Homo sapiens: one gene and its partners. The protein of the gene in region 2 interacts with the protein of the main gene of each other region in a pairwise test. Each region holds a gene or a part of one and is shown on either strand. Other genes may lie near its edges.

The links.
Region 1: the proteins of GLRX (region 2) and MMP23B interact in a two-hybrid assay, tested with the Homo sapiens proteins (one large-scale study listed by BioGRID and IntAct).
Region 3: the proteins of GLRX (region 2) and AQP5 interact in a two-hybrid assay, tested with the Homo sapiens proteins (one large-scale study listed by BioGRID and IntAct).

Annotation. Positions count from the first base shown.
Region 1 is NC_000001.11:1,630,631-1,634,375, reverse strand, and holds the start of MMP23B (matrix metalloproteinase-23 precursor), read right to left. Parts: upstream 2,204-3,745; 5' UTR 2,158-2,203; coding exon 2,002-2,157; intron 1,594-2,001; coding exon 1,463-1,593; intron 1,396-1,462; coding exon 1,256-1,395; intron 1,189-1,255; coding exon 1,021-1,188; intron 629-1,020; coding exon 464-628; intron 388-463; coding exon 277-387; intron 175-276; coding exon 48-174; coding exon of another isoform or gene 47-47; exon of another isoform or gene 44-46; intron 1-43. UniProt on the Homo sapiens protein: Protease. May regulate the surface expression of some potassium channels by retaining them in the endoplasmic reticulum.
Region 2 is NC_000005.10:95,813,305-95,816,638, forward strand, and holds the end of GLRX (glutaredoxin-1), read right to left. Parts: intron 3,323-3,334; coding exon 3,209-3,322; 3' UTR 3,203-3,208; exon of another isoform or gene 3,192-3,202; intron 1,654-3,191; exon of another isoform or gene 1,086-1,653; 3' UTR 545-1,085; downstream 1-544. UniProt on the Homo sapiens protein: Has a glutathione-disulfide oxidoreductase activity in the presence of NADPH and glutathione reductase. Reduces low molecular weight disulfides and proteins.
Region 3 is NC_000012.12:49,960,293-49,964,037, reverse strand, and holds the start of AQP5 (aquaporin-5), read right to left. Parts: upstream 2,167-3,745; 5' UTR 2,021-2,166; coding exon 1,658-2,020; intron 1,372-1,657; exon of another isoform or gene 1,114-1,371; intron 547-1,113; coding exon 382-546; intron 1-381. UniProt on the Homo sapiens protein: Aquaporins form homotetrameric transmembrane channels, with each monomer independently mediating water transport across the plasma membrane along its osmotic gradient. Plays an important role in fluid secretion in salivary glands.

The DNA of each region.
Region 1 (3,745 bases), on a different chromosome or scaffold from region 2:
CGCCCGCGGGCTGCCCACCCCGAGGACCGCCCGGGGCGCTCACTCACTACACTTTCCCTTTCTTGTGGAGGATCTTCTGGCCGCAGCGGAAGGTCACGTTCCTGCCCTCGGGCACCAGCCTGGTTTTGGTCCTGGGGGGCGGTGGGGTGGTGGCCACCGTGGGGAAGGGGAATTCTGCTCCGGGTGGGGGAAAGAGCCCCGTCAGTGCCCCCTCAGCCCCGACCATGGCCAAGGCCCAGCTCCCACGCAGCCCTGTCCCGGCCCCGTGGGCATCACCGTAGCAGAAGTCGCAGCTGCTGGGGCAGAGCCTCTTCATGAGCCGCCGGCGAGCGTCGCAGAAGCCCCTCCGCGCCCAGGACGCGCACACGAACAGCCTGTCGAGGCATCCTATCGGGAGCGTGGGGAGCACGGCCTGGCTCAGGACCGCCCGGTCCCCGCCCTCCCGCCCGACAAAGGGACTCACCGTAGAGCCGGTGCAGCCCCCACAGCTCGTCCTGGGACAACGCCTTCCAGCCGCGCAGCGTGGCGTTCAGGTGCATGAGCGCCCGGCCGTGTTGTGAGTGCATCAGGCCCAGCGCGTGGCCGATCTCGTGGGCCGCCACGTGCACCAGGTCCGTGAGCCACACGCCTGCGGGCCCCGGGGGTCAGCGCCTGGGAGCCCCGGGCCCAGCCCCGCCGCCCGTGGGCCAGCTCCCCGAGGCCCGGTGTATCTGCTGGAGCGCAGCCGCGGAGCCGCCCTCGGCCGCAGCCACGGAAAGATAAGAATGTTCTGGGCCCAGGCGGTGAGCTCGGCCCCCAGGAATGCAGCTCCAGCTCCCGCTCCAGAGGCGCAGGGGGATGGGAAAGGGAGTTCAGGGCTGCCGGGATGGGGGCTCCCACGGGCTCCCCTCCTTGCCTGCTAGACTCCAGTGGCAGCCACCACCCCGGAAGGTCCCTCCTGCCGTCTGCCCCAAAGCCCGACCGCGGCAGCCCACTGTGCTGCAGAGGAGAGGCCTCCAGGAGGCCAGCCTGGACGGTCACCTTTCTTCCAGCTGTAGCGCGTGGGGCCCAGGACCCAGTACTCGCTGTCGTCGAAGTGGATGCCGCCGTGCGGGGGGAAGAAGGCGTGGGCCAGCTCCCCCGTGGGGCCGTCGAAGCAGTGGTGCAGCGCGGAGACCAGGCAGTCCGTGTGGTTGATCGGGTAGAAGCCTGGGGGGAGCACGGGGCTGAGAGGCCGGGCGCGCAGGGCCGGGCCGGGGCGGGGGCGGGCGCCCACCTATCCGGAGGTCGCTGGGCTGCTCGGGGGCCACCTCGCGGAAGCTGAAGGGGGACACGTCGCTCCACATGCGGAAGGCGGCAGCTAGGGCCCGCCGCGTCTCCCGCGGGCTCAGCAGGTTCCGCGGGAAGGAGAGGATCCTGCAGGGAGAGTGAGCTCAGCGGGCGCCGGCCGCGCCCCCTCCCCCGGGGCCCAGCCAGGGCGCACCTGTAGGTGAGGTTGAAGTGGTCCCAGCGCAGCCTGGCTGGAGTCAGCGTGTAGCGGCGTCTGCGGGGGGCCAGTGGGCCCGGGACCCGGGTGGGGGGGACCGCCGAGAGGCCCAGCGCAGCGACGTCTCCCTTCAGGGAAGAAAGCGTGCGTGGGAGGCATCGGTGACGGTCCCCAGGACCAAAAACTGCCGCGGAAAATGGACTGGAAGGAAACGGGGGTGGGGGTGCCCAGGGCTGGGAGCGGGCGTGGCGGGTCCTGTCTGCCTGTGGTTTCGGGTCTCCTAACCTGAGCGCCCTGTTGCACGTCCCTGGGAACGCGGCCCAGTGGAGGGGAAGGGGCTGAACAGCAGGGCGAGGCCTCCCACCCCTCCCAACAACTGGACACAGGGGCGTCCAACCCTCCGACCTCGGGACGCACATCCGGACCCTCAAACACCCCGCACACCCCGCACACGTCCTGCGGGCCCCCCGATAGACCAGACCCACAGACGTGAGGACCCCCCCAACCCGGCACCTGGCCTCCCCCCCGCCGCTCACCTGCGCTGCGCTCCAGGCCGGCACCGCCGGGGCCCCCAGCCGGGCCAGCAGCACCAGCGCGGGGAGGAGGCACAGGGCGACCAGCGCGGCTCCAAGCCAGCGGCGCTCGACGCCTGCCCCCGGGGCCTCCGAGGGGACACGGGCCCCGCGGCCCATGGCAGACTTGCTGTGGGGCTCAGGGCTGCATGGGGCAGCAAGGCGCGGGGGCCCGGGCCGCAGAGCCTCCGGGGAGGATCCGGAGGGGAGGCAGTGGCTCGGCGGCTCGGGTTACAGCCCGGTGTGGTGGGGGGGAGGGAGACGGGGCGGGAGAGGGGGCAAGGCTGCCCCTGAAGGGAACCAGCTGGCCCGTCCGTTGGCCGAGCTGCCTGCTGTCTCCAGCCGGGGGCATGGGGACCCGCGTCCCGTGGGCCAGGGGCAGAGGCCTGGGCATGGCCTGCTGGGCGGGGTCCTCGGAGGGGGGAGCGAAGAGGGCCCCAGGCAGCCCGGGAAGGGCAGCGCCAGGGCTCCCGCTTAGGAAAGGGTAGCAGTGGGGGTCCCCAAGCCCCCACTGCTGGGCAGTGAGTGATCTGGTGGCTTTTTTCCCAAATGGAATCCTCAAAAAACCCCTGAGCCCCACATGAGCGGAGTCTCCATCCTGGCCCAGGCAGCTGAGCTGGGCCGCAGGAGACGCGTCGCTCGCCTGACAGTGTCCCCGAGAGCTGGGAGGGGATGGCCGGATGGGGACGTGGCAGTGAGTATGGGGCGGTGGAGGGGGAGGCGGGGAGGGGGTGCGTGGGTAGGCAAGGGCCGCGGAGGGTGCCAGGTTGCGGGGCGGAGGGAGGGAACTTGCCAGGGTCTCCCGGGGAGCCGGGAAGGGGCGGGCCCTGGCTGCGGGAAGCCCCGTGGAGGGTAGCGCGTGAGGTGGAGGGTGTGTGGCTCCTAAATCCCCGGCTAGGCCCCAGCAAAGGGGAGAGGGAGACGGGAGGGACGGGAAACGGAGCTAAGCGCCGGGCCTGGAGGTCTGGACCGGTCCTGATTGGGGGCGGGGGCGGGGAGCTCGGAGACCCAAAGGTTCGACGGGGCGGCCGGCGTCCAGGCGCGAGCGGCTCTGGGCTGGGACCGAGACCGGGCACCGGCGTCCCGCGGGGCGGGGGTGGGGGATTGGGCAGAGGAGCAGGAGATTCCGAGCCAGACCGGCCTGTGTCTGTCTCGTCCCTCCCCGTTTTCCGCGCCGGCGTCGGGCCCAGGGTGACGGCAGCCCGGCCAACGGGGTCAGCGCCAAGCAGCTGGCGGCGGCCGCGGGCGGTTCTTGGAAAGCGCGAGAGGCTGGGCCTGGCCGCCGTATTTGCTCCGACACCGCCCCCCGCCCCCCCAGCTCGTCACCCCGCCTGCGTGCGCCCGGCCCCCAGACCCTGCCTGGGACGCCCCCCAACTAACTCCCTGCTGGGACGGGACCCCACAGCCCTGGGGAGTGTCGGGCCCCTTGGATCAGAGCGCGAGTCCCCGCGGCCGCCCCCAGGACGGAAGAGCGAGGGGGGCCCGGGGGCAGACACAGGAGTCCCCGCCCCGTCGGACCCGGGCCTGGGGGGCGGGAGGCGGCCGTGCCCGCGCCTGGAGGGTGTCCTGGCCCGAAGGCCGCAGTCCGGGCGGGAGTCTGGACCCGAGAGCCTGGGGCGGGCGGGGCGGACCCAGGGAAGGGCCCCCCCCCCCTCGCCCCCAGGCTCGCCCGCGTGTCCCGAGGGGAGGACCCCAGAGGCGCCCGGTC
Region 2 (3,334 bases):
TGATAAGAGCTGTAGAGTATCTACATGCACAGTGTTTTTGAATTCCAGAAGAGGGAACGATGATTTTTCAGTCAAAAGGCCATGAGAGGAGAGAGAAAATATAGGGGAAATGATCTGTAAATCAGGCCTTGAACGAGGAGGAGTTTCAAAGTAAAACAAAGAAGAAAAGGCATCTCAGGAGAAAGAAACACAATGAACATGGACAAAGAAGTGTGAAAGTGCAGGCAAGTGGTCCAGAGTGGATCAGATACTATAACCTCCGGTGGGAGGGCTTTCATATTGTGCAGTGTGTAAACTGAACAATTATCCATAGCAATCCTGGTGTAAACTGAACAATTATCATAGCAATCCTGGTTGAAGGGAGTGGTTAGGGCCCACAAAAGAAAGAAGCGAGAAGTACAAGGGCCTTAAGTGGGAAATGGCAAAAAGGAATATGAAATGAAAAAGACTGTTATTAAACCCTAAGCATTATTCAGTAAGCCAGGGCTGGCATTTATTTCAATATGAAATTTCAAAATTATATCAGCCATTTGTACTCAGTGAGTGACAGCAGCACGTGTCTTTATTTATAATGGCAGGGCCAAATATAAACACAGTTTTAAGTTAGTGTATTTCGCATAACATTCCTTAATGTCTTGAGAACATGCAAATGAATTGGACAAAAATCACTGAATCATCTATAGGTTTTTTTTATTAGAAAAGAAATTAAGTGTTGTCACTAGAGATTGAAGGAAATTAACAATCTTACAATTCTAGAACAGGCAAACTTCATGATAAGGGATTCTTAAGTTTTCAAAGTGTAGGAGCTCTTTCACAGATACACTCTTGGTGTAGGGGGCTGTAAGTTTTATCAGATGTTTTACATTTCATGCTTTAATCTTTGCTGGTAGTCTAAATAAAATAAATACACAGTGTTCAGGATTATCTGGATAGCCATCTTAAATAACAGAGTGTTCCGCATGACCACAGCCTCTGCACTTGTGCCTCTGATCCATATGACACCAAGACCAACTATGCTTTTCATATGATTTCTCCAATTGGGTCCTGTGACCTTTCACAGAATTGTTGAACATTTCCTATGAGATCTGTGGAGGACAAGGTGGAGAACACTGGTTCAGAGCAGTGATTTTCAAGGTGGGATGGGATGGGGTGGAGTTGAGTGGAGAGATGCATGTAGTTAGAAAGAACACATTCAAAATACCCACTGATTTCATAATACAAACTCCATAAAGTCAAGCAGCAAAATGATTTTAGCTAATGGGCAGTAGCAGATAACCAACTGTGGATTCATCATTGTGGAGAAGGAGTCTGGATAAACATAGTTGAAAAACACTGGCTTAGAGGTAGAGACATGCCGACACATGGAGAACAGTAAGAAACGCATGCCAAAGAGGACAATTGAGGGTCAGTGAGCGAATCCTGGGCCAGAACTTGTCACAGTCTTCTGAAAACCAAAGAGCACATCCAGAAGAAAACCAAGATGGCCCGTCAACCTTCTTGGCCCTGTGATTAAGAGCAAGTTGGTCCACTTTTAAATACTGAGCCAAAAGAGGAAAAAAGCTGTTTGTGCCCCCAAATTCATCCACCAGAAGTGCTGTCATCATTTGCAATGCCATCCAGCTCTTGAGGAGGGACGTCAGCATGGGGCCTGTTCTGCCAGGAAAGAAAGAAGGGATCTCCTTGTAAGGCAAAATCCTTCCTTTCTCTCATTACCAGAACACTTACACCTGCCATTTAAACACACTCTGTTGCAGATGGCCTTGAGATGCAGCTGCCAGTAAAATACTGACAGCATAGAACACTGAAGGAAAAGGCCAAATGCAAATAAGGAGACTTTCTGAATATGGGGGACTCTAATGCCCACACCAAAATAGAAGCAGTTGGAGAAATAACATTTCCCATCTTCTCTCATTCTTAATCTAAGCCTAAATTGCTAAACATGTCCCAGAATAGGAAACCATTAATTGGGTTTGAGTGCTTTTAGTACCAGTGGTAAGGCCAGGAAGTGAACTCAGACAGACATAGGGTGCACCTGCTGTGATGATATCGTAGAATTCTGATTAGAAGATTTATAGCATTGACTATTTCATTTCAGAGAAATCAGTGGTATTTTTTCAGACCTTTTTCCCCCTTCTGTTGCTATGCTGAGTAACCATCACAAATAATGTATACTCATTGCCCAAGAAATGAGTTATTAATTAGCAGGCAATAGATACCCCTCCAAGAACATTTTGGTTAAAGAACCATTCATTTCTCCCTCAACTAAAGCAGCATTTACATCTCTCTGGGTACAGGTCTCTGAATTGGCCTGCTTGGGAGCTAGCTAGCGCTAGCTGTGCTGGGGAACTGGGGGAGGGAGGAGCTCAGACTCCAAAACCATCACGGTTCCCTTCTGAAATGTTCATCGCCCTGTGGTTTTCCACAGAGCCAAAGATCTCCTTTAGGTTACTGATTTTAGAAAACTTTGTTTTGGCTTTTGGGAAGCCAATTAAATAGAGTTGATTTGCCAAGTGAACACAGGTAAAGCCAAAATGACCTGTGTTTCACATTGCGTTTTGAATAAATCCAAATTGTTTACCATGGCCTGGGTGCTCTGGCCCCTGCCCACCTTTCTCGCTATTCTTCCTTTTCACTGCACTTCATTCACTCTATTCCTGCTTTCTTTCTGTTCCACGAACATCCCTTACCTGTTGCCACCTCAGAGCCTTTGCACTTGCTATTCCCTCTGCCTGAAAAGCTCTTCTGCTTCATCTCTGCATAGCAGTCCCCTTGTTAACCAGGTCTCAGCTCAACCCTTCCTGAGAAAGGCCCTCCCTTACCATGTTAGCTCAATTTTCTCCCCACCCCATGACATATTCTGTCACATTATTCTATTCTATTTCAGGATTTGCTTGTTTTTGATCTGTCTACCTCTCTAAAATATAAGTTCCAGGTTATCATTTTATGCATCATTATATTCTCATGTGTCTGGCACATGCTTAATAAATATTTCTTAAATGAAGCTTGAGTGAAAGGATTTCTCTCATTGACACGATCTCTTTGTAAAGTGTGAAATTCATAAGTGATTGACATCACCATTCCTCAACTCACCCCAAATCATTTCTTCCCCCAACCAGAATGCTGTCATACAGTATAACAAACCACGACAGAAGAATTCCACGGTCTCCCATGTTCCTGGCCCAGCACCTCACCTGCCACTCACCTGTGGTTACTGCAGAGCTCCAATCTGCTTTAGCCGCGTCAGCAGTTCCCCACTCTGTTGCAAAGAGACTAGATCACTGCATCCGCCTATACAATCTTTACCAATAAAGACTCGAGGCACCTAAAAAAGCAC
Region 3 (3,745 bases), on a different chromosome or scaffold from region 2:
GAATCTGGACTCTCTCAAGGTTACACTGCAGTCCAGGGGCTCAGCCAGGTCTCAAACTCAGGCTGGCAACCTCTCCCTCCAAGGATCCCAGCTGCTTGGTTAACCATGGACCCTTAACTACGCCCTCCTCTCTTCTCTGCTCTGAGGTTGGGTTTGATTCCTGTCCCATCCCACCTCCTACTTACTCCCATCTTTCCTCAGCCCAGAGGTTTTGGGGGGATCAATTCTGGGGCCCAGTAGGGCCAGAGTCCAGGAGCCCTAAATCCAGGCCTTAAACTCTGCTGGACTCATCCATCTGAAGTGGGCTCCGCTCCAGGGCTCCATTATTTGCCTTGAGTGCCTGCCCCACCCTCACCCCAGCCCAATGTCGGTACTGCTCACTCCGACAAGGTGGCCCAGGGTGACAGACAGGCCAATGGACAGGGCTGGGGAGCCCACAGGGCTGGTGCGGCGGGAGTCAGTGGAGGCGAAGATGCAGAGTGCCAGCTGGAAGGTCAGAATCAGCTCCACCACCATGGCCTGGCCCTGCGTTGTGTTGTTGTTGAGCTGCAAGGGGATAGCGGGTTAGGACCCCGGCCACCTTCTGGCTGTATAGCCAGGGGCTCGGGGAGTAGGGCTTTTGGCCTCCAGGGACACTTAGAGCACCTTGGCACCTGGAAGCCAAGTCCTGTGGACATCGCCCCAGCGAAGCCATTTGTTAAAGACACTGTACATTTCATAGTTTGCACAGGCTTGAAGCTCAGGCCTGTGGCCAAAGGGCAGAGCGTCAGGGTAGCTTTTCCTGGACACGGGCCTATCAATGGCTCTGCCCAACCCCCAGCCCCCATAAGCTGGCATTTACCCTCCATCCTGTGGGCAGCTGCCCGGTTTGCCTGCCTCACACCCCATCCCGGCCTCCTGCCCGTGCCTGGCCCCATGCCAGTGCCAGCCTTAAACCCGTCTCTCCAGTGCGGCTGACTCACAGCTTGACAATGGCCAAGCAAATCCTCCTCTGTGTTTGATTAATGAACCCAGTTTGCATGGGGTTGGGGGCTGACTCTGGGGCTGCAGGAGGTGGGAGGGAGGCAGGGGTGCGGGGTTGAGGGGAGGAGCACAGGTTGGGGAAAGAGGGAACCAATACTCAACAGAAACTGCTCTGCACTGGCCCCACATTAGGGGGTTCCTATCTACGGTTTCTAAATGTGAGCCCCTTGACACCTGCTGTGGCAGACACAACCATCCCCATGGAGGCGCTGAGAACAATGAAGCACAGACAGGCCAGGGTCACCCAAAGCCGTGATGACAGCCCGCTTTTCTCTGGTGGTTCTACTCAACCGCTCCACTGAGGTGATGGGAGAGGTGAGGGGCCCAGGAGGAAGGTGGAGCTCAAAGGTGAGACAGGAGGAGGCAGAAGTTTCTGGCAGGAGAGGAGGGGTAGCAGGCATTGGAGAGAGACCAGGGTGGGCCAGCATGAGGGGAGGGGGAGAGGAGGTGGGCAGGAAGGGAGCACATATCAGCCTGGAGAGTTGCCTTCCTGGCCTTGGGAGGCTCTTGCCTTCCTGGTGAAGGGTGTGGGCTGGCCCACTCTGCGGCACCCCTTTTTTCCAGGTGGGGTAAGAGGCCTGGTCCTGAGCCCACCCCAGGGTCGAGGCTCCCACCCCCCCCCCAGGGCACTCACCGCGTTGACGGCCAGATTGCCCCGGGCATTGAGCGGTGCCACACCGTAGAGGATGCCAGCCCCGGCAATGGCGCCCACCAGCTGGGCCGCCACGTAGAAGAAAGCCCGGAGCAGCGAGATCTGGTTGCCCACCAAGAGGGCCAGGGTGATGGCGGGGTTGATGTGGCCGCCGCTCACGGGTCCCAGGGCCTGGGCCAGCGTGCCTATGGCCAGGCCAAACGCCAGCGCGATCTGCAGGATGGTAGGCAGCGCCGACGGCCACTTGAGGGCCGAGCCCAGGCCAAAGAAGACGAAGATGAGGGTGGCCAAGAACTCTGCGAACACGGCCTTGAGGAAGGCCACGGAGCACACCTCCTTCTTCATGGTGGCCGCGGGGGCCCGGCGGCAGCTGCCGCGGCGGGGGGCGCCCGTTGGGTCGCAGGCGGCGGAGGAGGTGGATGCGGCGGGGGCGGGGGCCTGGCTGCGGGGCGCCGCGCACTGTCCCGCGCCCACTCCGAGGCTGGCGGCCTGGCGCGGGCCCTGCTGGGGCGCGCTATATAGGGGGCGGGCGGCCGGGCGCGGGGCCGGCGCGGGGGGGCAGGGGGCGGCTCCTACGCTCGGGGGCCAGCGCGGCGCGCGGGTTGGGAGGCTCCAGGCCGCTGCGGGCCCGCCGCTCTCCGTCGTCCAGCGCAACCCCGGCGCGACCCCCGCCCCCCGGCCGGGGCAGCCGCCGGCCCGTCCGGGCCACGTGACCCAGGCGGCGGTGTAGACCGGCCCAGCGTCCCGGGCCCTGCGCATGATGCGCCCAGGTTGGCTCCCGCGCTCTCCTCGGTGCCGTGCGCCCCGGACTCCCTGGGAGACGGGGCTCGGTCCCGGCGCTTCACTCCGACCTCGGGGCGTCTAGCTCCGCCGGCCTTTACCGCGCTCCGTGCGCGGCCTTCCCCTTTTCTTCTCTTCGGGCTTTTGGTCCAGCTCCTCCTTTTCCTCCTGCGACCGGAGCATCCTGACCCGCCTCACCCCCGGCTGGGTCGGAGTGATGCTCGTCCCGCAGGTCGGCGCCGCTCACCTCCCTCACCGCCGGCGGCGGGGGCGGGCGGCCGGGCTGGGTCCTGCAGGGCGGTCCGGCCGTCCGACGTGGGCCGCTCCCGGCCTGGGCCGGGCGAGCTTCTGGGCTTGGAAGGCTGGCGTTTTGGGAAAAGTGGGCACCGTGCCAGCCTGCCCCGACGCTTCGCAATCCTCGACGCCCGGTAGCTGGGCAGTACCTGGACTAGGCAACGGATCCCCGGAGGCGCCCTCTCCCAGGCCGGGGTTCCCCTTGTCGACGGGACGGGACGGGGGTGTGACGTGAGGCCTTGAGACTCTGGGAGTTGGAGTGGGGGAGCAGGGGGGGTAGAGACGCACCACTGACCTCCCAAGCGCGGTCTTGGCGTCTTCCCTCTTCCTGCTAGAAGCCCCTCACCCTGGATCTAAGACTCTCCTTCTCTTCCTCCACCTCCCCTAAGTCTCCTTCAAACCCTCACTTGGTCTTGATCTCTCTCCCCTCGAAATCTGTTTCTGTCAGTCAGTCTTTGCAAAACCCTATTTCTCTTTTTGTCTCTGTCTTTGGTCTCTGACCCTCTCCCTCTGCCAGCCTCTTCCTCTCGGTCTCTCTCCGAGAGGTCTCTTTCTCATTTCAGTCTCTCTGTTCTCCACCTCTCCATCTCTCTCTCTCTCACACCTTCTCATTTTCTGTTTTTCCTTCCTGCCTTTTGCTGTCTTAGTCTCTCTGTCTCTCTCTATTCATTTCTCTCATCCTGCAGTTTCTGTCTCCTGGCTATTTTCACCTTTCCTCTGCCTCTTAATTTTTGTGCCTTTCTTTGTTTCTGTCTGTTTCTACCTCATTTTCCATGTCTCTCTCTCTTACATGTGGTCTTTCTCAGTCTCCCCAAAGTCAAGTTCTTCTACCCCTGGTCTGGGTGACACTTTCTTCCAGTTCCCATCCCCCTTCCCTCTGAGCTTGTAACCCCTTTGTGACCTGCTGCCTCCTCGCACACCACCCTCTCCCTCTTCCCACCCACTCCAGGTCGGGCATGTGGAGAACGAGGCTGGAGGGCTCTCTAGGGCTTAGAG